7 linked regions of the Homo sapiens genome follow. The protein of the gene in region 2 purifies or fractionates together with the protein of the main gene of each other region. This does not show direct contact. Each region holds a gene or a part of one and is shown on either strand. Other genes may lie near its edges.

Region 1 (4,061 bases), on a different chromosome or scaffold from region 2:
TCAGTTTATTTGTATGGTCTGCAAATAACTAGTGAAATGATTAGTGCTAACACTGTAGTTGCTATCAACTTCCCAGTTAATTCAGGAATGTTATATTAGTGTAATGACATTCAGATACCTACAGATTATAATTATGAGCATTAGTATCATTAATCTAATTATTGAGCTTTTCTGTTAATAAAAGCACTGCAGTTTTTGTATTCATTATGGTAATTGCTTTGACTGTTTTTCACCTCTGAGCCAAAATTTGAGGCTGGCACATTGAGGGATAGTAGTGGATTATTGATTGGTCAGTAGACCTGTCTTGGCTCTGGTGTTAACAGAGATACCATTGGTGTTGTTACACTGAGGTTTGGTTAGCCTCAGCATCTGCCTTTCTAAAATTGGTGATACGATTTCTCTGAGACTTCCAGTTCCAAAAATCTCTTTTCTATTATGTCTGTTGAGGGTCTTTTTATAACAATCGTCAAACAGTTTTTTAATTAACATTATTTGCATTTTATAACTAATGTATATAAATCTTTGGCAAGTTAAACATAACTAATATTATTTGCTTAGCAAAGCTTTAAATAATATATAAAGTCATGATACTCTAAACTGTTGACTCTGAAGTAATAAGAATTTGCCTTACTAATTGGAAAATTACTGTGCTGTATTTTAGGTATTTTATATGCATTACCTGAGTCTGAACGAAAACTACAGAGTTCTATTCAGGATTTGTGTGTTACCTGGTGGGAGAAAGGCCTGCCTGCCAAGGAAGACACAGGAAAGACAGCCTTTGTCATGTTACTAAGGAGGAGTCTGGAGACTAAGACAGTATGCTCACTTTTTATTTTTTTAAAGACAGGGTCTCTCTCTATTGCCCAGATGGAGTGCAGTGGCATGATCATAGCTCACTGCAGCCTCAAACTCCTGGGCTCGAGCAATCCTCCTGCCTCAGCCTCTCAAGTAGCTGAGACTTCAGGAGTGCACCACCTAGCTAGGACTTTATTTTTAAACGTCTTCCTAACATTCTAAACCTGCGCTATTCAACGTAGTAGCCACTTGCCACAGAAAGCTGTTTAAATTTAAAGTTAAAAATAATGAAAAATTCAGTTCCTCAGTTGCATTAGTCACATTTTAGTAGCTCTACAGTGAAATGTGGCTAATGTCTACTGCACTAGACAGTTCAGATGTATAAAATCTTCATCATCGAGGAAGTTCTTAAACTTGCTGGATTTTTAATTATTTTCCTTATGTTTTAAAAAAATGTTCTGTAGAGCTATAGGGGGCATTTGCAAATTTTAAAATCTGTTTTTATTTGTCGTTATTTTTTAATCTTTGATGAATCAACTAGAATTACCATTATTTATGATATAAAATATACTTGATTTGAAATATGACTTTACTGTTCATTGAAAAAGGTATCACATTTTTTGTGTCATTCCTAGGGTGCAGACGTATGTCGGCTTTGGCGTATCCATCAAGCTTTATATTGCTTTGATTATGATTTGGAGGAAAGTGGAGAAATTAAAGATATGTTACTTGAGTGCTTCATAAATATTAATTATATCAAGAAAGAAGAGGTAAATAGGTATTTGTTTTTTGATCTGTTTGTGAGCTGCTTCTTAATAGATGTTTCTCCTGTGTTCACATGGTTCCTGTCTGCACCATGCTCGGTGTTGCTTAGCTACCAGGAGCTATTTACTGCACATGATTTTTACTGCATGGCAGTACTAGAGAAGACATTTTACAAGTCCTTGCTTATTTCATCATTAAATTGGATGGTAACAGGTGGCTGTGTGTTACCTAGGGGAACCGTAATTACATTTTAAATTAAGAATGATTAAAAATAAGGTTGAGAAAGCACTTCTCTATGAATGAGATCTGGCCTTCTGCCCTAATTCCATTTTAATTGCCATGTACTCAAAACTGTCATCCCATAATATCCTCCCTTTCTTTTTTCTACCCATCCTGTAAATCCAGAGAGGCTTCTGGCCTGTTGCTGCACTGCCCGTCCTGGGGTCAACTCCCATATGAGGCTACTGAGCACCTGAAATGGGACCCAACTGAACTGAGATTAGCCATAAGTATAAAATACACATGGATTTGAAGATTTAGTGGGAAAGAAATGAACATAAAATAGCTCATTAATAATTTTTGTTCTATACTTAATATAATAGACAATATTTTTATTGTCTGTTATATTAAATATTGCTTTACATAAAATATATTATTAAAATTAATCTTCTTTACTTTTGTTAACATGACTACTAAAGAATTGAGAATTACAGAGAGGCTCGCATAGTTCTTCTGTGTTAGGGGCCTTCTGCAGTTGTTTACTGAGCGTCGACTACATGCTCAGGCAGTGCCAGGGGAGACTAGAACAAGCTTTTGCATTTGGATGCTCATGGCTCAGCAGGCACATCTCTGAGGCAGAAGGAGGAAGTCATCCCTCCTCCCTGAAGGAGGTGGAGAAGGGCTTCAGAGGAAGAGGAGGACCAGCTCTGAGGTACAGAATAAGTTTCCTCCAGGTGTCACAGCTGCTCAGCGGCAGAGACAGAACTGGACCCCGGCGAGCCATCTGCAGTCTGCTAGACAAAGGGCCATGTGATTAGGACTGAGACCTTTGGCTCCCAGGGTCTTTGTTCACTTTATAGGTGGTGCCCTTGGTCAGGCCTTTCAGCCTCAGAGTTTTGTTCTGTAAAATAGGAGCAACAGTTACTGTTTCACAGGATTGTTGTTAGGAACAGATGAGGTAATATGTATCAAACCGCAGCCCAGGCGCTGGTGGATAAGAACCCCTGGGGAGGGCTGCCCTTTGCCATCCTTGCTGTGTCAGCACCATCGTTATTACAAAGATGTTGGACACAGCCTGTGCCCCACACATGTCTCCAGGATTGTTCTGAAATGGGAGAGTGAAGAAATTAATGATGGATTCAAACAATAAACTATTTTATGTTGACTTATACATAAGGAGTTGATGAATCGTACTTGTTAACTTATATATGTGTGCAGATATATAACAGACATAAATGTATGTATGTGTTATAACCTCTACCCTTTTTAAAAAATTGATGTCTCCTTTGAATTTAAGATATCTAAATGTAGTTTCCTAATCAATCATTAATTTGGTCAGGTCAGTTTCCAGTCATTCTGGGTAAACCATAAACATCTTGTACTGTACTAACAGATTACTTCCAGTGAATATTACTGTTTTTTTTTTTAACTTGCCTGTTGTGAGCATGGTTACCCTGCATTTGAATCAAAATGTATTGCATTTCTGTAGGATTCCAGTTCTGTGCAGTGGTGTGCTGGTAAGAGATGAAGGTGCTATTCACTGAGAGAGTTCTAGATAGATGCATCTTATGCACTCTATAGAGTATGAAGATTGTATTCATTCTTCTTAGGTTCAGATACATAATCTAGTAGCATGCATATAAATTATCATCACATGATGTATTTATGACTTGAAGACTGTGTATTTGGAAATTCTAGCTTGACAAACACTTAGCCTTTTAACTATATGAGTCCTCAGTTTTCTCATCTATAAATGAGAAGGTGAAATGAACTGGGATATTCAACTCCATTCCCACCCACCTATGCTAGATTTAAAGCTTTCTTTCATTTGAGACTATGGAACCATCCATGACAGAGCCAGAATGAGATGTTTATGGACCCATGGTTACTGTCTGTGGTCTCCATCTCTGCACCTGTGGCCCTTGAGGACAGAGGCGCTCAGTGTAGCGGCTGCTCGGCCCTGGGGGAGGTGGCTTGTGTGGCTCCTGGCTGTGCAGGCCCCGCAGACAGCTCAACTCGTGCATGTGCTCTCAGTGATAATTACATGTGCCTCGTTTTTAGCAATAGCAATGTTTAGCTTACTAGACGTTCAAATAATTGTTTGTTATTTGGCACTTTTTATTTGGTTGCAATGTAAACATTCTATCCTTTTTTATTTCTAGGGAAGAAGATTTCTTAGTTGTCTCTTCAACTGGAATATCAACTTCATCAAAATGATCCACGGGACCATTAAAAACCAGTTACAGGGATTACAAAAGTAAGTGTTAAAAGTACTGAAGATT
Region 2 (3,565 bases):
ACTTCCTCCTCACTTACCCCCCTTCCCAAGCTGTGCCACCAGTGAATCAGGACTATTTGACTTTTGACTGACAGTCACACAGGATTTCCACCATCTTCCTTTGAAATCCCAAGCTAAAGTTGGGAGGAGGCCTGTGACAGTGGAGAAGGAGGTAGCCAGGTCCCCATACAATCAATGCCTGGAAACAGGTAGAGTGGGGAAGGGGCCTGGGCCTGCCCCCTCCCACACTCAGCCCCTCCCTCAACCCTCTGCCCTTCCGGAGCTGCCTTTCATGTTTGTTTTCATCCAGATTTACCTGTATATAATGTTGAGCACAGGTTACCCAGTGTGTTTGCCCAGGCCCAACATACCCTGCGGTAGGTGAACGTAACCCTCCAATCCGAACAGTCCCTCCACTGGAGACGACCCCCTAAGTCTTCATAACAAGAACGCTGGCACTAAAATAGACCTCTTAGGCATACGGGGCAGCAACACGCTAATTCCGTAAGGAAGGAAGCTGGTTCTTTTTCCTCTTTTTTTTTTCCTCCAAAATCCACTTTTATCCAAAGGATAAGCTGCTCTGACCTTGACAGTTTTTAAAAGAAAAGTCTGTTGCTAATGGGAACCAGCCCAGCTGTGAAAGATCTAATGAGTGCCTGCCAGTGGCGTCATCTAGAAACAAATCAAGCAGCTTCTGAGAGAGCAGGGAGACCAGCTGTTCCGCCTCTCCTCTAAAAGGAAAGAAGAACAGAAATATGAAACATTGAGTCAAGAAACAGTACAAATGGCAGCAAAACATGTATTTTAACGACTCTGAGATCACAGCACATTGGAAAGGTAAATGACCCTCTTCCCTCTGATGAGTCCTGAAAGCTAGGACAGCAAAGCTTCCCTAACAGGACAGACGGGAAGTCCAGGACCCCACACAAGTTCTAGAAGGGTGTGGAACCAACTGACGTTGAAGTAGATGTAGATCTATTTCAAAGTATTTCTGACTAGGGTCTATGTTAATAAACAGGGCTGATAGGATTTATAGGTCAAGAGAAATGGAGTCTAAAAAGATGAAAACCAAACTACAGGTCGAGCATCCCAAATCCAAAAATCCAAAATCTGAAACGCTCCAAAATCCAAAACTTTTTGAGCACTAACATGACACTCAAAGGAAACGGACATTGGATCATTTCAGATTTCCAGTTTTGATTTTGGGATACTCAACTGGTATAATGCAAATATTTCAAAATCTGAGAAAAACCCAGATCCAAAACACTTCTGGTCCCAAGCACTTCAGATAAGAGATACTCAATCAGTATTATCACTGAAATGGGAAATTAGGGGGTTCTCTCATTTCCTACTTAATAGATATTCCCATGTTGGGAAGGGAGGGTTAGAATTTTGAATGTTACCTGATTGTAATTTGCTCTAAATGGTAAAAAGCTAATATTTGAGTAACAGTATTATTATTTGACCAAAGATTTGGTCAAATTTTAAGATAGAATTTGAAACATCCTGCATGTCTCTATAGATCTTGACATGCCTATAGGCCCAGCTATCCTTTAAGGTTCATTACCATACACATGTGTGAATCACTTCATAGTAAGATTTGAATTTCCAAAATCTTGCTGTGAATCTCTGACCCTAAAGACTTGAGCATATCATGGCCATATTACCATATGCCAGTTTATCATCCCAAACGTCTTTCTTCATCTGTAATTTGGGAACAATAATTACTTTATTGAAGAGGTATGAAAACTAATTGAGACTATATGTGTGTGTGTGTGTGTGTGTGTGTGTGTGTGTGTGTGTGTGTGTTTGAGATGGAGTTTTGCTCTTGTTGCCCAGGCTGGAGTCAATGGCACAAAGTCAGCTCACTGCAGCCTCCACCTCCTGGGTTCAAGCGATTCTCCTGCCTCAGCCTCCCAAGTAGCTGGGATTACAGGCATGCACCACCATGCCCGGCTAATTTTGTATTTTTAGTAGAGACAGGGTTTCTCCATGTTGGTCAGGCTGGTCTCAAACTCCCAACCTCAGGTGATCTGCCCACCTTGGCCTCCCAAAGTCCTGGGATTACAGGCATGAGCCACTGCACCCTGCCTAATTGAGACAATATTTATACAAGGGGAAATTGGTCTATTATAAGGCCTAGCCATAGTAAAGGTCTCAACATGTGCTCCCAGCTCTCCCTCTCCTCCTTGTCTTCTCTCTACCAGTGGTTCTCACACTTCGTAACACTCTGAGGCACACTGGGCATGAAATAAAAGCAGGAGAGGATGGGACAGCATATTCCAGAGATCTGTTTTTCTTCTTAAAAGCCACTCACTTGAAATTCTATCAAAGTTATATGCCTAAAAAATTCATTACCTCTGTTTTAATTATACAAGAGCCTTACAACTAAAATACTCTCCCAGTCATCTAAGAGACCACCACTTAACAGTATATTAGATGCAAACATTTCAGATTTTCCCCATGAGCCTGAAGTTTAAACATTCAAATTTGCAAAAGAGAAGTAAATTGGAAGAAAGACATTCACAGAAAACTATTTCATATCCATTAGTTATCATTTACACATCAAATACATATAGCATTAAGACCAAATATACAGAATTTCCACATTTATATACAGTAGTCAACATAGTGCACAATTCAAATCTATCTTACAATCAAGTGTACAAGTTTAAATATGGCTTTATAAACTACTAATAACTCTGCTAAAGTAACTCATAGATCCAGAAATAAACACTGAAATGCCATCTTCACATTGGGGTCATCATTCAGCAAGATGCTAATCATTGTGATTGCAAAACAGAGGGTGCAGGTAAGTGTTTCCAGGTGGTGTCCGCCCATTAGCCCCGAAATGTGGGTTCAAATTATGCCAACATTGGCCCTTCCTATCTCAGATACCTAAAAATAAGTCTGCACATCTTCCACACATTTGAAGACACAAGATTATAAACAAATAGAAAAAAAGACATGTAATCAGTGAGATGATGAATTATCAGGCATTATCAAAACATGTTTTTCAGATTGATGCTGAAATTCACAGACAATACATCCTGCATTTGCATTATCTGGGTATCACCTCACCCCTACTTTCTTTTCTTGTTTTGCTTACCTCAGTGTGTTGTTAAATCTTTCTGGAATTTTCAAGGCATTCTAGATCAAGTGGTCCCAAAAGCAGAATTAAAAACATCAGTCTTAAAGGTGACATCAAATTGTTCATCCTTCTCTTTCCCAACCAAAAATGCCTATTTTAAGTAAAAATAATTAAATACCTTGACCTAAAATCATGCGTCCATGCCTGTTTTATATCTGCTTTGCCACAAATGGTATATACACATTCTCTAATCAATTACAGGCATCTGGGTGCTACGCCTAAAGACTCCTTGTCCCATTCTCTAAACTCCATTGAGGACCAGAAAATATACTTTTAAAATGTCTATGTTTGCTATGGTTTTTAATGTTTACATCAGTAAAACAGTATATACATATATAGCAGTGTATACATATATACATATATATCATAAATAAATACATGGAGGGGCATGCTCAGAAAGTTTTACTAATAGGGTGAATAAACATAAACGTTTGG
Region 3 (4,061 bases), on a different chromosome or scaffold from region 2:
TAACTTTTAAAAAAAAGGCTTTTTTTGATTGTAGTTTTTAGACATGGTATCCCTCTGCCACCCAGGGGGAGTGCAGTGGTCCTCACTGTAACCTCAAACTCCTGGGCTCAAGAGATCCTCCTGGCTCGGTCTCCCAAGTAGCTGGGACTACAGGTGCATCTCACCAGGTCCTACTAATTTTGTTTTTTGAGATGAATTTTCGCTCTTGCTGCCCAGGCTGGAGTGCAATGGTGTGATCTTGGCTCATGGCACCCTCCGGCTCCCGGGTTCAAGCGATTCTCCTGCCTCAGCCTCCCGAGTAGCTGGGATTACAGGCATGCGCCATCACGCCTGGCTAATTTTGTATTTTCAGTAGAGACGGGGTTTCTCTATGTTGGTCAGGCAGGTCTCGAACTCCTGACCTCAGGTGATGCACCCGCCTTGGCCTCCCAAAGTGCTGGGATTACAGGCGTGAGCCATGGCGCCTGGCAGGCCCAACTAATTGTTTTACTTTTTTGTAGAGATGGGGGTCTCGCTATCTTGCCCAGGCTGGTCTCAAACTCCTGGGCTCAGGAGATACTACCACCTCAGCCTCCCAAAGTGCCGGGATTACAGGCGTGAGCCACCATGCCTGGCCTGTTGTTGTTTTGTTTTTATAAGAGACAGGGTTGGCTGGGAGCAATGGCTCACGCCTGTAATCCTGGCACTTTGGGAGGCCAAGACAGGTGGACTGCTTGAGCTCAGGAGTTTGAGACCAACCTGGGCAACATGGCAAAACCCCATCTCTACAAAATATACAAAAATTAGCTGGGCATGGTGGTGTGTGCCTGTCACATCAGCTACTCTGGAAGCTGAGGCAAAAGAACCACATGAGCCCAGGAGGCAGAAGTGGCAGGGAGCTAAGATTGCGCCACTGCACTCCAGCCTGGGTGACAGAGTGAGACTTTATCTCAAAAAAATAAAAAATAAATAAATAAATAAATAAATAAATAATTAAAAAGACAGGGTTTTTGTCACCCAGGCCGGAATGCAGTGGTGCAATCATGGCTCACTGTAACCTTGAATTCTCAGGCTCAAGCACTCCTCCTACTTCAGCCTCCCAAGTAGCTGGGACTATAGGCATGTGTGGCTAATTTTTCAATTTTTTTTTTTTTTTAAGAGACAGGGTCTGGCTATGTTGCCCAGGCTGGTCTCAAACTCCTCCCGCCTTAGCCTCCCAAAGTGCTAGGATAACAGGCATGAGCCACCATGCCTGGCTCAAAATCATTTTTTTTTTAAACTACCCTATTGCTTGCAACACCTCTGGGATGGAAGCACAGCATTTAGCAGCTTCCCTGGCCTCTTGCTGCTGTGTGACTGTGGCTAAGCACATTCTCCTGCAGTGGCTGGGTGTCATCACAGGTGAGTCTGAGGTGGGCCTTACCCTGTTAATTTGTTGAGGATCCAGGGAGACCTTGCTCTGTGAAGCACCAATGCAGGGCCTGGCATGTAGTAGGTGCCAATGATGCTATAGTAACTGGCAATCAGGAAGTAGAAGAACCGGGGTGGGAGAGGAAGGGACCAGCTGGTAGAACCGTGAGGTGATGGTTCCTAAACAGATTTCACATCCTGAAGTCAGAGGTGACTCAAGAGTGAGAGGGAAGGAAATAGAAACAAAAACAGGAGGAAGCACAGATCACTTCATGAAACTGCGTAACGGCCAGCTCTGCACAAGTCTCTGCTCCCTGCAGATGGGACACGGAATTTAGCAGGACACAGTTGTGATCCTGAAGAATGAAAGAACTGCTTACGCTGGGCCTGATGAGGAGAGGCTCAGAACCTAGCCCTGTTGGGTCTTAAGAGAAAAGGAAGCATTTAATCACTTGCTGAGAAAGTGAACCATAGATGCTCAGGCTAAACCTGGATGCAGAATTAAGTATCTGACCAGCACAGTCTGGAGCTGCTTTCTAAGTCAGATGAGCAAAACCACCATTAAAAAGCAGCCCTGTTCCAACCACAGAGAAAGCACGCATGGCATTGACACAGAGAAAGCAAGCATGGCATACGCAGTCAGAAAACACCACTGTTCAAAGAATGACTGCCTGGATTATAGAAAATAGTAAGTTCTTCCAGAGAGGCGGCATTTAGTCCTGGGTGGCTTTCAAACCAGGAAAACCTAAGAATGATGGTGCACTTCCCAGGCCAAGGGATAAAAGGGACTGTGATCAGAAGTAAGAAAGTTAAAGGGGTGGCTGGGCGCGGTGGCTCACGCCTGTAATCCCAGCACTTTGGGAGGCTGAGGCGGGCGGATTACGAGGTCAGGAGATCGAAACCATCCTGGCTAACATGGTGAAACCCCGTCTCTACTAAAATTACAAAAAATTAGCCGGGCATGGTGGTGGGCGCCTGCAGTCCCAGCTACTTGGGAGGCTGAGGCAGGAGAATGGCATGAACCCGGGAGACGGAGCTTGCAGGGAGCCGAGATCACGCCACTGCACTCCAACCTGGGCAACAGAGTGAGACTCTGTCTCAAAAAAAAAAAAAAAAGTTAAGGGGGAAACGGATATGCAGGTACATTCTCTTGATTCAACAGCAGATGTCCAAATGACCAAGATGGATCTGTCTGCTTAAAAGACAGGTGGGAAAATAAGAAAAAAGCCATAGGGCCTGGAAGAGAGGAGAAGAATGAAAACTTACAGGGATGGGTGTACAGCAAGAAGAGAGAGAACAAGAGGAAAGCAAAATATAGAAGAACACAACCTGTCAGAATCTGCAGAAATGGCATTGCAAAATTTTTTTTTTTTTTTTTTTGAGACAGGGTCTCTCTCTGTCACCCAGATTGGACTGCAGTGGCAGGAACACGGCTCACTGATGCCTCGACCTCCTGGGCTCAAGTGATCCTCACGCCTCAGCTTCCCAAGTAGCTAGGACTACAGATGTGAGCCACCACGGGCCCGCTAATTTTCAAATTTTTTGTAGAGACAGGGTAGTGCCCAGGTTGGTCACTGCGAATTCTCTAGCCAAGAAATGTCTAAGTAAAGTGACAATGCTTATAGTCATCAACTATTTACTTAGGGGAGTCCCAGAGCAGCCAAAACACACCCACATCACTGCCAAAACCATACTCAGAGAAGGAAGGCTTTCAGGTAAAGTGTCCTGCCATGCACTGTAACAGCTCCAGAATCTGCTGAGCAGACCCAGGGAACAAGGCGGCCGGCAGGTGTTCTGAGGCCCTACAGAGGCAAGAGTCACCGAGACACCAACTACTGTGACCCCAAAAAAGCTGCTGAGGAGTTCGAGACCAGTGTGGCCAACATAGTGAAACCCCATCTCTAATAAAAGTAGAGGCCGGGCGCAGTGGCTCACGCCTGTAATCCCAGCACTTTGGCAGGTCGAGGCGGGTGGATCATGAGGTCAGGAGATCAAGACCATCCTGGCTAACACGGTGAAACCCCGTCTCTACTAAAAATATAAAAAATTAGCCGGGCGTGGTGGCAGGCGCCTGTAGTTCCAGCTACTCAGGAGGCTGAGGCAGGAGAATGGCATGAACCCAGGAGGCGGAGCTTGCAGTGAGCCGAGATCGCGCCATTGCACTCCAGCCTGGGCGACAGAGCGAGACTCTGTCTCAAAATAAATAAATAAATAAATAAATAAATAAATAAATAAATACAAGTAGAAAAAATTAGCCTGGCATGGTGGCAGGCACCTGTAATCCCAGCTGCTTGGGAGGCTGAGGCAGGAGAATAGTCTGAACCTGAGAGGCAGAGGTTTTAATGAGCTGAGATTGCGCCACTGCACTCCAGCCTGGGCAACAGAGTGAGAGTCCATCTAAAAAAAAAAAAAAAAAAAGCTCCTGGGGAGGCTGTGTGTGGTGGCTCACACCTGTAATCCCAGCACTTTGAGAGGCCAAGGCAGGTGATTGCTTGAGGCCCGGAGTTTAAGACCAGCCTGGGCAACACAGTTAGACCCTAGCTCTATAGAAAATATAAAAATAAATACAATCAAATTTTTAAAAAGTTGCTGAGGAAAGGAAGACATACCCTCTTTGACTCTGATGGGGATTCTTTTTTTAAAGTTTTGAGACAGGGTCTCGGTCTGTTGTC
Region 4 (4,061 bases), on a different chromosome or scaffold from region 2:
TTGCTGCAATCTCAGGATCAAATTTGAACAGATGAGGAGTTGCTTCTTATGGATGAGGAAAGAAAGTGGTTTCTTGAGATGGAATCTGCTCCTGGTGAAGATGCTGTGAACACTGCTGAAATGACAACAAAGGATTTAGAATAGGATCATAAACTTAGTTGATAGAGTAGCAGCAGGGTTTTAGAGAACTGACTCCGATCTTGAAAGGAGCTCCACTATGGGTTAAATGCTATCAAACAGCATCGTATGCTACAGAGAAATCTTTTGTGAAAGGAAGAGTTGATCGATGTGGCAAACTTCATTGTTGTCTTATTTTACAAAACTGCCACAGCCAACCACCATCCTGATCAGTCAGCAGCCATCAACAAGGAGGCAAGACCCCCCACCAGCAAAAAGATTATGACTCACTAAAGGCTCAGATGATCATTAGCATATTTTGCCAATAAAGTATTTCTAATTAAGGTATATACACTTTTTAGGCATAATGTTAGTGTACACTTGAGACTACAATATAGTGTAAACACAACTCTTATATACACTAGGAAACCAAAAAGTTCATGATTTGCTTTATTTTGATGTCCACTGTACTGTGGTATCTGGAGCCACGTCTGCACCATCTCCCAGGTGTGCCAGTATCACCTTTTCCCTTCCTCTGAGCCCCCTGACAACACACATGTGCTTCTCAGAGAAGTACTACACCTCCTGCCTGCCTATCCTGATGGTTTTTAAATACCTTGAGGGCTAAGCCTGAATCTCACTCATCTCTGTACACCTCCAGTGCCACACATACAGTAGATAATCAAATACTGCTTGACTAATTTCACCTCAGTTCCCCTAATGAAGACTGGATAACCAAAACTCTCATTCATTTAGAGGATGTGAAATAGGCCTAAGGGTGTCATAAAACAGTTTACTGAGATGAAACAGCAAGCTGGGGATCAATCCAGGATAAAAATCCTTAAGAGTTCACTTTAGTAAATATTTATTAAGTGCCTAATATGTGCAAGGCATCATAAAACACAGCGGAGGGAAAGACATTAAAAATTACTGTAAGACAAAAGACATGATCAGCAACTCCACTTCCAGAATATCTCACTGAGAAAACTACTCCCCCATGTACACAGAGGCATGTGGAAGGACACTCACTGTGACACCGGAGGAAATAGGGAAAAAAGAAAAGGAAATCACATAAACATCCAACAGATAGAGAACTGACTGAGAAAATTTCGGCATATACATCCTATAGAATTTTATGGAACCATTAAGAAAGAACAAGGTAGAATACACATACACTGTCACGGAAAACACATGAGATATACTGCTGATTGTTTAAAAAGTCATAGAATTTTTTGCACATCTCAATTTTGCAAAAAAAAATGCAGACATACAAATATAAATGTTGCTGAATTTGAATATATGCATATACACATATCCGCAAGTGTGAACTGCATTTGGATTTCACATGCATGCACATAAGACACATATACAGATCTGCTCCAAGGAGAAATCTACAAAACTGCTTAGCAAAGTACTCAGAGGATGAGGTCCTGAAAGTGGGGACAGGAGCAGCTGGGGCAGGATTTTCACTTTTGGAACTTTTGCATCTTAATTTTTTTACCATGAACATTTCCTTAGTAACAAAAGATTGTAATAATAATAATAATAATAGAGTCCCTGTAGTATTTAAGATATATACAATCAAATAACTAGTTAATGACATATGACAAGAGAAGACCAAACATATCAATGGAAGGGAATAAGGAGGCCATAAAGAAACCTTTATCTCTATGGTCAGTTGATTTCAACAAGGGTGCCAAGATGGTTCAGTGGGGAAAGAGCGGTCTCTTCAACCAATGATGCTGGGACAACTGGATATCCCTTGCAAAATAATATAGTTGCACACCTACCTTACACCATATACAAGAATTAATACAAAACAGATCCGAGACCTAAACATTAAGAGCTAAAACTATAAAACTCTTATTAGAAAACAGAGGGCTAAATCATTATGACCTTGGCTTTGGCAATACGTTCTTAGAGATGACACCAAAAGCATGAGCAATGAAAGAAATAAATAAATAATTGGACTTTTTCAAAATTTTAAAGTTTTGAGTACCAAATGACACCATAGGGCAACTGAAAAGACAACCCACAGAATGGGAGAAAATATGTACAAATCATATACCTGATAAGGAACTTTTATCTAAAACATATAAACACCTTCCAGAATTGAATAATAAAATGAAAAATAATCCTACTTAAAAATGGGCAAAGGATCTAAATAGAAATTTTTCCAAAGAAGATATACAAATGGTCAATAAGCACAGGAAAAGATGCTCAACATCATTAGTCTCTAGAGAAACACGGGTTTAAACCACAATAAGGTACCACATCACACCCACGAGGATGGCTATAATTAAAAGGTCAACGTGTAAGGGTCAGCCATAGTGGCTCGCATCTGTAATCTTAGCATTTTGGAGGGCCGAGGCAAAAGGATCACTTGAGACCAGGAGTTTGAGACCAGCCTGGGCAACACAGTGAGGCCCTTTCTCTAAAAAACAAAAATTTTTTTTTAATTAGCCAGGTGTGGTGCCACATGCCTACAGTCCTAGCTTCTTGGGAGGCTGAGGCAAAAGGATTGCTTGAGCCCAGGAAGTCATGGTTACAGCGAGCTATGACTGTGCCACTGCACTCCAGCCTGGACAACAGGTGAGGCTCTGTTTCTAAATAAATAAATAAATTTTTAAAGTCAAATTATAATAAGTATTTGCGAGGATATGGAGAGTTACCACTTGATATGGCAATTCCACTTCTCATTGTACACCAAAGACAAATGAAAACATGTGTTCACATCAGCATTATCTGTAATAGCCAAAAAATGGAAAGGACCCAAATGTTCATCAACCAATGAATGGATAAGTAAAATGAAGTATATCTATACAATGGAGTATTATTCAGCCATAAAAGGGAATGAACTACTGACACATTATAACATGGAGAAACCTTGAAAGCACTACGCTAAGTGAAAGGAGTCAGACCCAAAAGGCCACACTGTGTGGCGTATTCCACAACAGGCAAATCTCTAGACACAAAAGTAGATTCGTGACTGCCTTGGGCTTGGGGAAATGCAGGGACCGGGGTGGGGACTGATAGCTACAGGGTAAGTAGGATTTGGTGGGGAGGGTGGGGGGTGGGGGTGATGAAAATGTTCTAAAAATGATTGTGGCAATGGTCACACATACCTGTGAATACACTAAAAACTATTAAATCACATGCCTTAAATGGATGTATTGTACAGCATGTGAATCACATCTCAATAAAGCTGTTACAAATAAAAAGGGAGAGAACACCAAAAACAAAGAGAAGCAGCCCAGACAGGAAGTCAATGAGAACAGCACAAGGAGGGATTCCAGTGGCCGGAAGCAGCCAAGAGAGGGATGGGTTCCCTAAGGCAGGCGCAGACTTAGACACAGGAGAAGCTCCATCCCATGGGCGGGACGGCAGCGATGTCTGCAGAAGGCAGAAGCTTCATAGCCTAGGGCAGGGCACCGGGGAAGAGGCACAGACAGGAAGAGACCGTGCGCCTGCCGCCATAGGTTCACTTTGGAAGGCGTGGGGTGGAAGGACTTGGATGAAGCCAGCACAGAAGGAAGCTTGGAAGTCAGGCAAAGGGAGAGGTCCAACCATCCCGAGGAGACGCTGAAAGTTTGTGAGCAAGGAAACATCACCACGGCCTGCGTGGGAGGTGGGATGAAAGGCTCGTCTGGTGGCTGCCCTGACTGCAGGGAATGAACGAGAGCACAGAGTTGAAGAAAAGGAGTTTTGATCTCAAGTTCGTGGAATAATTTGCGTGAGAATGACAAAGAAAGGGAGGAAATTAAGAAAATTATTCTAAGAAGGCAGCAGATCCGTTTGATTGTAGGTAAATACAAAAATCCCACATTGTAAAAGGGAGAAACCTTCCCAAGTTTGCCCATTTGCTCCTTTTTTGCGGCTGTAGCAACTAAGACCCTGAGTGAGTCAGTGTATGGGAGAATGAGGAGAAACATCTAAAGCCCCAA
Region 5 (4,061 bases), on a different chromosome or scaffold from region 2:
GAGCGTGGAGAGTGGACGGGAGGGGAGTGAAGGGCAGGAGGAGCCCTGTCAGTGCAGAGGTGAAAGGGGAGGTGGTGGGGCCAGAATGGGGGTGACTGTGGAGAGGAACCCCTGGGTTTCTGGGCAGGTGGGTTGGGGGCTATTTGGAGTTCAGTGTGGATGCATTCAGTATGAATCTTGGTGAAGCCATCCAAGCGATGTTTGAAGAAGGCAGCTGAACATGTGGGTTTGGGCTCAGATGGCAGGTCCAACCTGGGGAGGTGAGAAGACAAGTGAAGCCCAGTAGTGTCTTGGGAGTGGGCAAGCCAGCCAGGCTGAGGGTCACTGGAGAGAAGGGCCACTTCTGCAGCTCAGCTTCCAGGCCGCCATCTCCTCCATGTTCCCTTCTTTCTGGACCAGCTCTTCAGGTCCTGAACACCCCCGAGGTCCTTACACTCCGTAGACGACCATGCTGCTGTTTCCTCTCCCTTCCTCCCAGATCTGACAAACACCCTTTATCCTTCAAGAGCTAATGGAAGTGACTCCCCTTGGGGATGGCTTCCCAGCCTCTGCCACTCCTTCGTGCTACCATGGTGCCTAAAATCTTGCCTCTCCCCAGCACGCGCCATGCTTTGGCCATGTTTAGATCATGCTCATTTTCCTGAAGAGACGTGTCCAGTCTCTGCTAGCTGCCTTCACGTTCCCTTCATCTGTCTGGTGAGCCTCTGCGTTTTTCAGGCTTAGCTTTGACATTATCTATGCATGTGTTCATCAAATATTTACTGGACACCAGTGTCAGGCACTGAACAGAAGGCTGGAATTACACTAATGCTGCTCACACAGTTCACTAAGGGACACGATCACACTAAGGGAGCGGCACAGAGGCCCCAGGAATGGAGGGGCTCTGAAAAAGAGTTTGCGTGGGGACAGCTGGGGGTCGGTGTTCCAGGCAGATGGAAATGCAAAATTGAAGAGCTGGAAAGACACCTAGGGGCTTCAAAGTGTCGTTTGTGGCTGGGCACGGTGGTGCATGCCTGTGATCCCAGTGCTTTGGGAGGCTGAGGCAGGAGGATCACTGGAGGCCAGGAGTTTGAGACCAACCTGGGCAACATAGAGAAACCCTGTCTCTACAAAAACATTTTTTTTTTGAGACGGAGTCTCGCTCTGTCGCCCAGGCTGGAGTGCAGTGGCGCGATCTCGGCTCACTGCAAGCTCCGCCTCCCAGGTTCATGCCATTCTCCTGCCTCAGCCTCCCGAGTAGCTGGGACTACAGGCGCCCGCCACCACGCCCAGCTAATTTTTTGTATTTTTAGTAGAGACGAGGTTTCACCGTGTTAGCCAGGATGGTCTCGATCTCCTGACCTCATGATCTGCCCGCCTCGGCCTCCCAAAGTGCTGGGATTACAGGTGTGAGCCACCGCACCCGGCCTTTTTTTTTTTTTTTTTTTTAAAGTGTCATTTGCTGAGAAGGAATACAGGAGATGAGCCAGCGTTGGGGAAGATGTTGGGTAAAGTATGGAAGTAAAGTGTTTGGGGACATTTGAATGTACTCTGTGGACAGCTATGAATGCAGCCCCAGAGCTAAGGAGAGAGAGCTGGTCGGGTTGGGTTTGGGGCTCATTGGCTTATGGTTGGCAGCTTGGGCATGGGATGAAGGAATGTGCATGGCGGGGGGTGGAGCGCCTGGCGCACTGACGTTTAAGGGGTGACAGAGGAGCTGGGGCTCCGGGAGGCTGAGGGGAGCAGAGGAAGGATGGCGACTCACCTGTAACTGTTTCCTGAGTTCTCTGCTCAGAGGATGGAGACCTCAGCATTTTATCTCTGCCTTTCCTACCCCTGAGGTTCCCTTTTCTTCTCTGTGTCGGGGATCTTCCTGCTGGAGTCTGTCAGCCTCTGGCGCCTTGTGGAGGGAGCCGCTGTGCTGCCCTGGTTGTTTGTAGACAGTGTGCCCTGGGGGCCTTCCACTTCCAAAACAGGTTTTTGTTATAGGAAGTAGGGGGAAACACAGAGACCTGTCTCTGCCCCGAAATACCAGGGACAACCGGTGAGCCCACAGCATAGCTAGAGCTGCCCGTCTCGGGAGGTGCTGGGCAGAGACCAAAGATGGGTGGGGCTGCCCTGGAAGAAGCGAGTGCAGACTGGGCCTTGGATTCCCCCTGTCTTTGTGTTGTTTCTTGCAGCTGGATCAGATCTGCATTTCTTTTGACGAAGGCAAGACCACAATGAACTTCATTGAGGCAGCGTTGTTGATCCAGGGCTCTGCCTGCGTCTACAGTAAGAAGGTGGGCCCTGCTTGACGCTGGTCTTGGCATTTTGGTGGCCAGTGGGACCACAGTCGGCTCTCCTTCTGGGGCAGGTGCAGTGGTCGTCCCGTCTGTGACCTACCTCCCTCTCTCCTCAGGTCTCAGCCAATTCCTCAGCACCTTCCAACACCAAGAACAATTTTTAATTTAAAATCGCACAGCCAGGCAGGGAGGGTCTTTTGTGCTGTTGGGCTCTGTTGTCTTGGGGGAATGACACCTGCTGTGTGCACTTGGACACAGCCCAGGGTGCCACCTGCACCCACCTTCCCCTTCCCCGTCCCCTACTTGTGGGTGCCTCATTGTCAGCACCTAGAAAGTCCACAACCACCACCCTCACGGTGGGGCCTCTGTTCTGTGGAGGAGAAGGACAGGAAGTGAGTGACGGGCTCTGTCCTGCAGGCCCCGTGGCGGCAGGAGCTGGGACAGGGCAGGGCCAGGACAGGAGGAGGGGCTGGGGTGATGCTGGCGGGAGCACACGGGCGGAGGAGCAGCAGGGCTGCAGGCCGTCGGCAGAGTGGGTGCCAAGCACGAGGGGCCTCACCACCAAGGACCGTGTGATGAGGCACACTGTGGGAACCACAGTGCTGTCAGGGTCACACGTTGAGAAGGCCACGCTCGCGGCTGCGTGGACCATAGAGGGCAGAGGAGAGATGTGGGTGGCCTCAGCTGGTAAAGTAATTCTCATGAGATTCCTGGTTTGATTTGAGAATTATTTTTGGAACCAAAATTGGTGGTTTCTTGTACTGGAGGTTTGGTGGTGGTGGCCAGGCCTCGTGGGGGCACCGATGGATAGCTGGGAAGGCCTTGGGGGTGGGCCCCTCCTTTCTGGGTCCTCACTGCCTGCATCTGGTCACCAGGTGGAATACCTCTACTCACTCGTCTACCAGGCCCTTGATTTCATCTCTGGAAAGAGGTGAGTTCTGCAGCCACTCACTGTGCTGCCCTGCATGTGGCCAGGGAGGCCCCTGCAGCTCCTGGGATGCCCACGGGATGTGCTTCTCTCTCAGGCGGGCCAAGCAGCTCTCTTCGGTGCAGGAGGACAGGGCCAATGGGGTTGCCAGCTCCGGGGTCCCCCAGGAGGCAGAGAATGAGGTGAGTTTCTTTGGCATGTGGTCCCCGCCCACTGTGTGTTTGCCTGGGCTCCGCCCCCACGAGCTCTGTCTCCCTCCAGTTCCTGTCGCTGGATGACTTCCCTGACTCCCGGACTAACGTGGATCTCAAGAATGATCAGACGCCCAGTGTGAGTCCTGGCCTGGCCCCTCTTAGGCTGGGGTGAGGTCAGCACTTTCCCTGGGGCTGTGTTGAGCTGATGGGGTGTGGGAAGGTGTCATTGCCCCATGTGGGTCCTGTTCTCCACTGGAGTGGAAGGGTGCCTGGCTCACCCACCCTTGGCCTCCATGCAGGAGGTCCTCATCATCCCCCTCCTGCCCATGGCCCTGGTGGCCCCTGATGAAATGGAGAAGAACAACAATCCCCTGTACAGGTAGGGATCTGAGCCCAGCGACGGGGAGGGAGGCCTGCCTGGGAAGGGTCTCTACAGCAGGCGTGTTTTTGCCAGCACAGCCGTCAGGGTGAGGTCCTGGCCAGCCGGAAGGATTTCAGGATGAACACGTGCGTTCCCCACCCCAGAGGGGCCTTCATGTTGGAGCCAGAGGGCATGTCCCCCATGGAACCAGCGGGCGTTTCCCCCATGCCAGGGACCCAGAAGGGTGAGGGCTTGGATGCGGGGGGCTTGGTGGGAAGGAAGGGAGGGTCTTCTGGTTGGACTCTTGTGGGGTG
Region 6 (4,061 bases), on a different chromosome or scaffold from region 2:
AAGTTCTCCATTCCATGGTCCCATTTTCCCTGTCCAGTGAGTTCCCAACTGTGCTCCAATGAGGACTAAAGGTTCCGAGGAGTAACATCTGGGTTTCTAGGAAGGCCGAAGTGGAGGCTAAGCAGTCAACACTCCAGGTTTCACCCAGAGCAGCTCCACTTTTATCTATCAAATAACAATAAGAAATTGCTTAATAAATTATGTTGAATACAAAAGGCAGAACATTATTCAGCCATTAAAAACTACATTTCAGAAAAATGTTCAGTGACATAGGAAAATGTTCATGAGGCTTAACACCATCTATAGCATTATCTAAATGTTTCAATATGTTAAAAAGCCTAGAAAAAAATAATCTCGAGGAAAACACACACTGGTGTAAACCATGGTTATATCAGAAAGACAGATTGATGGGTGTCTTTTAAACCTTCTTCTGTCTGTTAGTAATACTTTTAAAGACAACAACAAAAACATGTCTATGTAATCTTTTAAAAGATTAAAAAATATTTTCTTTTTAAAAAAATTATCTTAGAAAAGACTGTTCCCCAAGGCCCTGGCTCTACATTTTCTCTTCCCTAAACCCCAGGCAGTGATTGATCAAACCTTACTCACCTTTGCCAGAGTCTTCCAGACTAACATCTGGTAGTTGCCAGCCACGAGAGAAAGAAGCCTACATTGCTGACCCCTGAGGTTTCAAAGACAATAAAACCAAAGGCAAAGGACAAAAAAAGAAGACAGGCCGGGCTCGGTGGCTCACACCTGTAATCCCAGCAGTTTGGGAAGCCGAGGCGGGTGGATCACATGGTCAGGAGTTCAAGACCAGCCTGGCCAAGATAGTGAAACCCCGTCTCTACTATAAATACAAAAATTAGCTGGGCACGATGGCAGGTGCCTATAATCTCAGCTACTCGGGAGGCTGAGGCTGGAGAATCACTTGAACCCCGGAGGCGGAGGTTGCAGTGAGCTGAGATCGCACCACTGCACTCTAGCCTAGGCGACAGAGCAAGACTCCGTCTCAAAAAAAAAAAGGAAAGAAAAAGAAAAAAAAGCAGACAACAATCCTTCAGGTGTGAAACATGTACACATGTCTGCATGTTGGTCTTCAATACTTCCAGAGTTACCTGCCTTTAAAGTCCTTGATGGTTAAACCTAAACTGTAAGCTACTTATAAAAGGCAAAAATCAAAATCTGAGCAAAGAGAACATGAATAATATTATCAACACTAAAAGCTGGCACAGAGTACTTAGCTCTTCCCAAACATCAGAGATTTCCTTGTAGGCAAGAAAATTTCTCCTACATTTTTAATACTCACCAGGTGCTTTGCCTTAGCGCGTTCCTCCTCGCTACATATCCTCTCCCGAAGGATGGCTCTGGTTAACTGCTCATTGGCAGCAGCCCTCTCTCGGTCCAGCTCTTTGGCTTGCTTTAGTCTAAAATGACAAGAATTGTCTAAGTTAGAAAAAATATTTTATTAGTTGACATTATTTTCTATCAAATGAAATAATTTAAAAATAGAAACACATAGCCAAAAAGGTCAACAGCTGAAATCATCTTGGCCCATAATCTATCAAAAAAGCAGGTATAGAGGTAAATCCCCATGCAGCCTCCACTCAAGCATTTCAAATAACCAAATTCAAATACATGAAGAAGCTTATTAATTTGGCTGCCAAATATAACTAAGTTTTACAAAGTTCTTCTTATGTAAAATTAAAATCTGCCCACCAAAAAAATTCCATCCCTGGTGCTTCCATTTGGCCTCTGAAAATTTAAGTAATTAACAAACCATCTAGGCCAGGCGTGGTGGCAGCTCACACCTGTAATCCCAGCACTTTGGGAGACCAAGGCAAGTGGACCACTTGAGGTCAGGAGTTCAAGACCAGCCTGGCCAACATGGTGAAACCCCGTCTCTACTAAAAATACAAAACTTCGCTGGGCGTGGTGATACATTCCTGTAATCCCAGCTACCTGGGAGGCTGAGGCAGGAGAACTGCTTGAGCCTGGGAGGTAGAGGACGCAGTGAGCTGAGATCATGCCACTGCATTCTAGCCTGGGCGAATGAGACTCCGTTTAAAAAAAAAAAAAAAAGCCATCTACATGACAAATATTTGAAGGTAACCATCGTCTCTTTCTCCAAACTTACTCAACTCGTCCATTTACTGAATGCACACCAGGCACTGTGCTAGGCATTGAGGACACAGCGATAAACAAGATGGACAGGTCACTGTCATTGTGGATGTTACAGCACAGCAGAGAAGCCAGACATTATGGAACTAATAAGGACATCTTTCCTCCCAGTATATTACCCCTATTTTCCAACAATCCTCATATGCAAATATGACCACGCCTTTCAACTGCAGGGCTCCTCACTTCTGGAATGACTCCAATCGATCTGTTAGCTCCAAACTAAACCTAACCCTCCAGACATGCTCTAGCAAACTAAGACAGGAGAATCTTACTTCCCTAGATCTGTACACAATACTAATTCTATTAATGAAGCATAAGATTGCATTAGATTTCTCAGTAGCCTCATCACACAATTAGATCATATTAAGTTACAACCCACTAAAACCCCTCATTGTACATGATAAAGATAAATTACTTTGGCACTGATTTTTGCCATAGTGCCTGGCACATAGAGGCATTCAGTAATCACTGAATCACTGAAGATTTCAGTCTAATCTCATGAACAAAGATTTTCTGACTGCCTTTTCTTCTTTGAGAGAATAACCCTACTATACCATCATATCCCTGAAGGTATAGCTATGCTTTAAAAAGGAAAAGTAAAATTGTTATGTTGGTGTAAGTGAAATTCTGAGTGAAATCTACTTTATACGTGTGAATGATGAGCACCAAATTCTACTCAGTACTAGCTTATCAAATTTTAGTTTTAAAAAGATTTTTGAAAAAAACTAGAGATAAAATTTTGTGTTACTATTTTTAAATTGCTACATCATCCTGATACTCTGGAATTCTCAGAAATCAACTACAACAGAAAAAAAAAAGTCACCTTGTGAGATATATTCCAAAGTTATCATCCTTTTCCCCTAAAAATCAAAGCTGTGTAGTTTTGTGTCTTAAATAAAAAAAAAGAGGACTAGAAACAAGTTAAAATCTGTATTTCGAAATTCTCTAATGCAAAAGTAACCTTTGGGAAACTTCCTAAGCAATAAGCACAATGACACTCATACAAACCAAATTTCTCTAAATTATTTCACAAGGACCATACAATAAATTCAGCAACATCAATGATATCAACACATTAACACCACTGGATATGTGTAATTGTAAGAGAACAGCAATAATTAGAAGTCACACCACTTCCTAGAACAGCAGTTCTAAAACTACAGTCCACAAACCAGCTGCAGTAGCATCAGCTGGGAGTCTGTTAGAAATGCAGCTTCTCTGATTCCATCCCACACTTGCTGAATCAGAAACTCTAGGGATAGTGCCTAGCAAACTGTCTTTTCATAAGCCCTCTAGAATTCTGATGCATGCTAAAGTTTAAGACTACAGCCCTTAATTACCAAAATACACTTGTACTCAAATAAATCCTGGAGGTAAATGAAAGTAACATCAAAAATGAAGTGCTCCCCATGAGAATATTGTGCAAATAACTGCTGAGGTTATCATATCAGATTACAATACTGTATTTAACGCATTTGTATGGACATCTTACCCCTAAGTAAAAAAGCATTACCTATTTTTACCAGTGAGGTGGAAACTAAAATAAAATAATAAAATTACTATCATTTATGGATCAACTACTAAGCACTGTGCTAGGCACTTTACAAACATATATAAAATGTTTATTCAAATTCTATTATTAGTTCATGAACATAAAATGAATTCTGTTCAACTGAATTATCACATCTACCACATTTGGTGTATCTAATTTTAAAGTACTGTTTAAAAATTACTACTTTTTTTTTCCATTTTAGTTTACTTATGTATGGCTTAGATTTTAATTACATATGGAGTTCTACATGGTTCAACTTTAAGAAATACAGGATCATAAGGATTTTGGCAAGTTAATGAAAAAGAAGCAAAACATGAGCACAAAAGCC
Region 7 (4,061 bases), on a different chromosome or scaffold from region 2:
CCTCCCGCATCCACCTCTTCGCGGGAAGGGGTGCGAGGGGCGGCGCGGCGCCTGCAAGGACAGCAGCTGGAGGCATTGACTCGTGTGGCCCTGATGGAGCAGCGAGTGAAGGAGCTACAGCGCCAGAGGAAGGAGCTGAGGATCGAGGTGAGGCTGCGGACCCCTTGGGAAGCCTGGCCCCAACTCAAGCGGAACCCGCAAAGCCGGACTCCCAGCTTTTTCCTCGGGTGGGATCAGATTTTAGGCCCTCCGCTCTTCCTCCCTCCAAATTCAGGTCCCTGGAGTCCATCCTCCCTTCGAATCCGGTAGTTCAGGCCCTGGGCCTCTTCCTTGGACCTAGGCGTCCGAGCCCCCAGCCCTGGCATTCTCTCCGCAGATGGAGGTGGAGGTGGCCTTGCTGCGGGGTGAGCTGGCTGGGGAGCGAGTGGCCGCTCGCCGGGAGGAGGAGCAGCTGCGGGAGCTGCTGGAGCAGCAGGCGGCCTCGGAGCAGCGCGGCCGCCAGCAGCGGGAACAGGTCTGTTTGGCTCACCGGGTCTTCATCAGCAGTGTCCTTCCTGGTCCATGGATGTTGGTGTGCTCCTAGCCACCTGCGCCCCGGGGTTGTCCCCATTCCCCAAAGGAAGACATTTGGGCTCCTGAGAGAGTGAGGGGCAGATGCCCCTCCTGGTTTTCCTTCTCCCTCCCTGGGCGAGATTTTTGGGGCTCTTCCTTTGTCCCCTGTCCGTTTGCTATTTAAATGTGGGTGTGTAAAAACTTCCAAACTGGCCGGAAGCAGTGGCTCACGCCTGTAATCATAGCACTTTGGGAGGCCGAGGCGGGCGGATTGCCTGAGCTCAGGAGTTTGAGACCAGCCTGGGCAACATGGCGAAACCCCGTCTCTGCTTAAAAATACAAAAATTAGCAGGGCGTGGTGGCGGGCGCCTGTAGTCCCAGCTACTTGGGAGGCTGAGGCAGGAGAATCGCTTGAATCCGGGAGATGGAGGTTGCAGTGAGCCAAGATCGCACCATTGCACTCCAGCAGCCTGCGTGACAAGAAGGAGACTCCGTCTCAAAAAAAAAAAAAAAAAAAAAAGAGAAAAAGAAAACTTCCAAACCCACCCCACAATAGTCAGGCAGCTCCCATGTCCTGTGCCCACCAGCTTCATCAATGATTAATATTCTTACATTCTTGTTTCATTATCTCCAATTTGTTCTCGTCCCCAGTTTTAAAAGCCAATCCCAGACATCATATGGTCTGTACATATGTTTAGAGTGTATCATTGACAGATAAGAAATCCTTTTAGGCTGGGCCAAGTGGCTCACACCTGTAATCCCAGTACTTGCGGGGTGGGGGGGGGGTACGGGGGGCGGGGCAAAGTGGGAGGATCGCTTGAGGCCAAGACTATGAGACCAGCCTGGCAATATTATAATAAGACACCGTTTCTGTGAAAAATAAAAATACAAAAATTAACCAGGCATGGTGGCATGTGCCTGTGGCCTCAGACTCAGAAGAGTGAGGTGGGAGGATCAATTGAGCCCAGAAGGTAGAGGCTGCAGTGAGCTGTGATTATAACATTGCACTCCAACCTGGGCGATAGAGCAAGACCCTGTCTCAAAAATAAAAAATTAATAAGTTCTTAGTATTGTCTTATTTCTGGTTAGTTTTTGTGTTTCCCAGACAGTCTCAAAATGCCAGTTAACAGGTGGCTTGTTTGAATGAAGTCCCCAAAGTTCAGTGTGATTGGCTGATACGTCTTGCCCATTGTTTTATCTCTGGTGGTTCCTACCCGCTGTGTCTTCCCCATACTGTTTATTGGAAAAATCCAGTCTTCTGTCCTATAGGCAGAGCATGGCTGATCGCATGCCTGTGGTGCCCTTGAACATGCCTCTGTTTCTGCAAGTGGGTGTTGGTTAGAGGGAGAGGTTTGATCGTATTCAGAAGTGCTTTAGTGCTTCCTGAGCCAGTGTTGGGAACCTCATCTCTGGTTGTCCCGACCTAATAAGATCACCCTAGTCTCTTTTTTTTTGCGAGACACAGTTTCGCTCTTGTTGCCCAGGCTGGAGTGCAATGGCGTGATCTTGGCTCACCGTAACCTCTGCCTCCCAGGTTCAAGCGATTCTCCTGTCTTAGCCTCCCCAGTAGCTGGGATTACAGGCATGCACCACCATGCCCGGGTAATTTTGTATTTTCAGTAGAGATGGGGTTTCTCCATGCTGGTCAGGCTGGTCTCGAACTCCTGACCTCAGGTGATCTGCCCGCCTTGGCCTCCCAAAGTGCTGGGATTACAGGTATGAGCCACCGCAGTTCGAGGCCAGCCTGGCCAACATGATGAAACCCCATCTCTACTAAAAATACAAAAAATTAGCTGGGCGTGGTGGCAGGCACCAGTAATCCCAGCTATTCGGGAGGCTGAGGCAGGAGAATTGCTTGAATCCGGGAGGTGGAGGTTGCAGCTCCCAGGAGCCAAGATCACACCACTGCACTCCAGCCTGGGCAACGGGAGCAGAACTCCATCTCAAAAAAAAGAATCTTTTATCTGAAGATTGTAACATCCATCAGTGGTCATTGCTTGGGTCAGTTACCATTATAGGTTGGAAAATGGTGACTTGTGATTTTGTCAGTTTTTTTCTTTGCAAGTGTCGTGTATGTTGGAATTTTATGAGGCTGGGTCCTAGGCCCTCATTTATCCTCAAAGATCACATATTTCTCCCAGGCCCTCTCTCCTGAGACAGAAATGTGCTCTTCTTCCTAGGGTACTGGCTACTTCATACTCCCTTCTCACCCAGATCCAGAAATCTCGGTCGCAGCCCCTTCTCCCTCTGTCCCAGGAGTCCAGACCCCCAGCTCCTCCTCCCTCAAACCCAGAAGTCCAGACCCCCAGATCCTCCTTCCTTAGATCCAGGAATCCAGGCCCCAGCCCCTCCTCCCTCTGACCCAGGAGTCTGGCTGACCTCAGCAACTCCCTTCTCCACACTGTTTGTCTTGCTGTCCCTTTGGTCACCAGGCCAGAGTCCTGGACTTTGCCCTGTACACTTCCCTGTCTCTCACCTCCAAGCCCGTCAACCACCATGTCCTATCCTTTCTGCTTCCTGATCCTCTCTGTCTAGTCCATCTATTTTTCAGCCCCACCGCCCAGGCCCCAGCTTAGGTCTCACCCTCATTGCTTGGAGGACTCCCGAGGCAGCTGCTCTCCACCCCTGTAACCCATCTCCCAGAGGGATGATTCCTAGCTCCTACCCCATCCTTTCAGTCCTTCTGAGGCTCCCCATATCCCCAGGTTGACCAAACCCCCCGTGAGCTGGACGAGCTGGCCTTCCCACTGTCCTCTCCCACCACGTTCTTCCCACCACCACATCCTCTTCCACCCTGGCTGGAGTTTGTCCCCCAGACTTCTTGTACTTTTCAACTTTCATGCATTTGTGCCAAGCCGCTTCCTCTGCCCAAAATGCTCTTCTAGCTCCTTTTATTTTCCCAGATCCAAATGCTCCCTGATTGTTTTGTTTTGTTTTGATTTTGAGACAGGGTCTCACTGTCGCCCAGGCTGGAGTGCAGTAGTGCAATCACTGCAGCCTCAACCTCTGGCTGACATTGTTCTTCATTCTGGGTTCCCACAGTCTCTGGATTTTACTGCCCTGATCTTTCCAACTGGCTGTGTTCCCACTTGGAGGACAGGGCCCAGACACAATCCACTTCTGCATCCACCGTATCACATAACATGAATATGTTTTGCATTCATTAATTTTCTTTCTTCTTTCCTTCCTTCCATCATTCCTTCCTTCCTTCCTTTTTGTTTCTCTTTCTCCTCCTTTCCTTTTCTTTCTTTTTCTTTCTCTTCCCTCCCTCCCTCTTTTCTTTCTCTCTCTCCTTCCTTCGTTCCTTCCCTCTTTCTCTCTTTCTTTCTTTTCTGTCTTTTCTCCTTTCCTTCCCTTTCGAGACAGTGTCTCCCTCTGTCACCCAGACTGGAACAGTGATGCAAACACAGCTCAGTGCAGCCTCAATCTCCCTGGCTCAAGCAATCCTCCCACCTCAGCCTCCCGAGTAGCTGGAACTACAGGCGTGCACTAACACACTCCACTAATTT

What was found.
Region 1: the proteins of FAXC (region 2) and NCAPG2 purify together in Homo sapiens (co-immunoprecipitation; 2 studies listed by BioGRID and IntAct, with this or other methods). This does not show direct contact.
Region 3: the proteins of FAXC (region 2) and MAU2 purify together in Homo sapiens (affinity purification with mass spectrometry; one large-scale study listed by BioGRID and IntAct). This does not show direct contact.
Region 4: the proteins of FAXC (region 2) and CHCHD6 purify together in Homo sapiens (co-immunoprecipitation; 2 studies listed by BioGRID and IntAct, with this or other methods). This does not show direct contact.
Region 5: the proteins of FAXC (region 2) and NCAPH2 purify together in Homo sapiens (co-immunoprecipitation; 2 studies listed by BioGRID and IntAct, with this or other methods). This does not show direct contact.
Region 6: the proteins of FAXC (region 2) and CHCHD3 purify together in Homo sapiens (co-immunoprecipitation; 2 studies listed by BioGRID and IntAct, with this or other methods). This does not show direct contact.
Region 7: the proteins of FAXC (region 2) and PHLDB3 purify together in Homo sapiens (affinity purification with mass spectrometry; one large-scale study listed by BioGRID and IntAct). This does not show direct contact.

What each region holds. Positions count from the first base shown.
Region 1 is NC_000007.14:158,687,323-158,691,383, reverse strand, and holds part of NCAPG2 (condensin-2 complex subunit G2), read left to right. Parts: intron 1-661; coding exon 662-816; intron 817-1,430; coding exon 1,431-1,565; intron 1,566-3,941; coding exon 3,942-4,036; intron 4,037-4,061. UniProt on the Homo sapiens protein: Regulatory subunit of the condensin-2 complex, a complex which establishes mitotic chromosome architecture and is involved in physical rigidity of the chromatid axis.
Region 2 is NC_000006.12:99,270,404-99,273,968, forward strand, and holds the end of FAXC (failed axon connections homolog), read right to left. Parts: 3' UTR 765-3,565; downstream 1-764. UniProt on the Homo sapiens protein: May play a role in axonal development.
Region 3 is NC_000019.10:19,326,868-19,330,928, reverse strand, and holds part of MAU2 (MAU2 chromatid cohesion factor homolog), read right to left. Parts: intron 1-4,061. UniProt on the Homo sapiens protein: Plays an important role in the loading of the cohesin complex on to DNA. Forms a heterodimeric complex (also known as cohesin loading complex) with NIPBL/SCC2 which mediates the loading of the cohesin complex onto chromatin.
Region 4 is NC_000003.12:126,720,838-126,724,898, reverse strand, and holds part of CHCHD6 (MICOS complex subunit MIC25), read right to left. Parts: intron 1-4,061. UniProt on the Homo sapiens protein: Component of the MICOS complex, a large protein complex of the mitochondrial inner membrane that plays crucial roles in the maintenance of crista junctions, inner membrane architecture, and formation of contact sites to the outer membrane.
Region 5 is NC_000022.11:50,514,288-50,518,348, forward strand, and holds part of NCAPH2 (condensin-2 complex subunit H2), read left to right. Parts: intron 1-1,432; exon of another isoform or gene 1,433-1,460; coding exon of another isoform or gene 1,461-1,487; intron 1,488-2,159; coding exon 2,160-2,261; intron 2,262-3,139; coding exon 3,140-3,195; intron 3,196-3,289; coding exon 3,290-3,374; intron 3,375-3,453; coding exon 3,454-3,522; intron 3,523-3,685; coding exon 3,686-3,765; intron 3,766-3,840; exon of another isoform or gene 3,841-3,845; coding exon 3,846-3,991; intron 3,992-4,061. UniProt on the Homo sapiens protein: Regulatory subunit of the condensin-2 complex, a complex that seems to provide chromosomes with an additional level of organization and rigidity and in establishing mitotic chromosome architecture.
Region 6 is NC_000007.14:132,973,860-132,977,920, forward strand, and holds part of CHCHD3 (MICOS complex subunit MIC19), read right to left. Parts: intron 1,428-4,061; coding exon 1,310-1,427; intron 166-1,309; coding exon of another isoform or gene 118-165; exon of another isoform or gene 1-117. UniProt on the Homo sapiens protein: Component of the MICOS complex, a large protein complex of the mitochondrial inner membrane that plays crucial roles in the maintenance of crista junctions, inner membrane architecture, and formation of contact sites to the outer membrane.
Region 7 is NC_000019.10:43,498,187-43,502,247, reverse strand, and holds part of PHLDB3 (pleckstrin homology-like domain family B member 3), read left to right. Parts: coding exon 1-147; intron 148-376; coding exon 377-514; intron 515-4,061.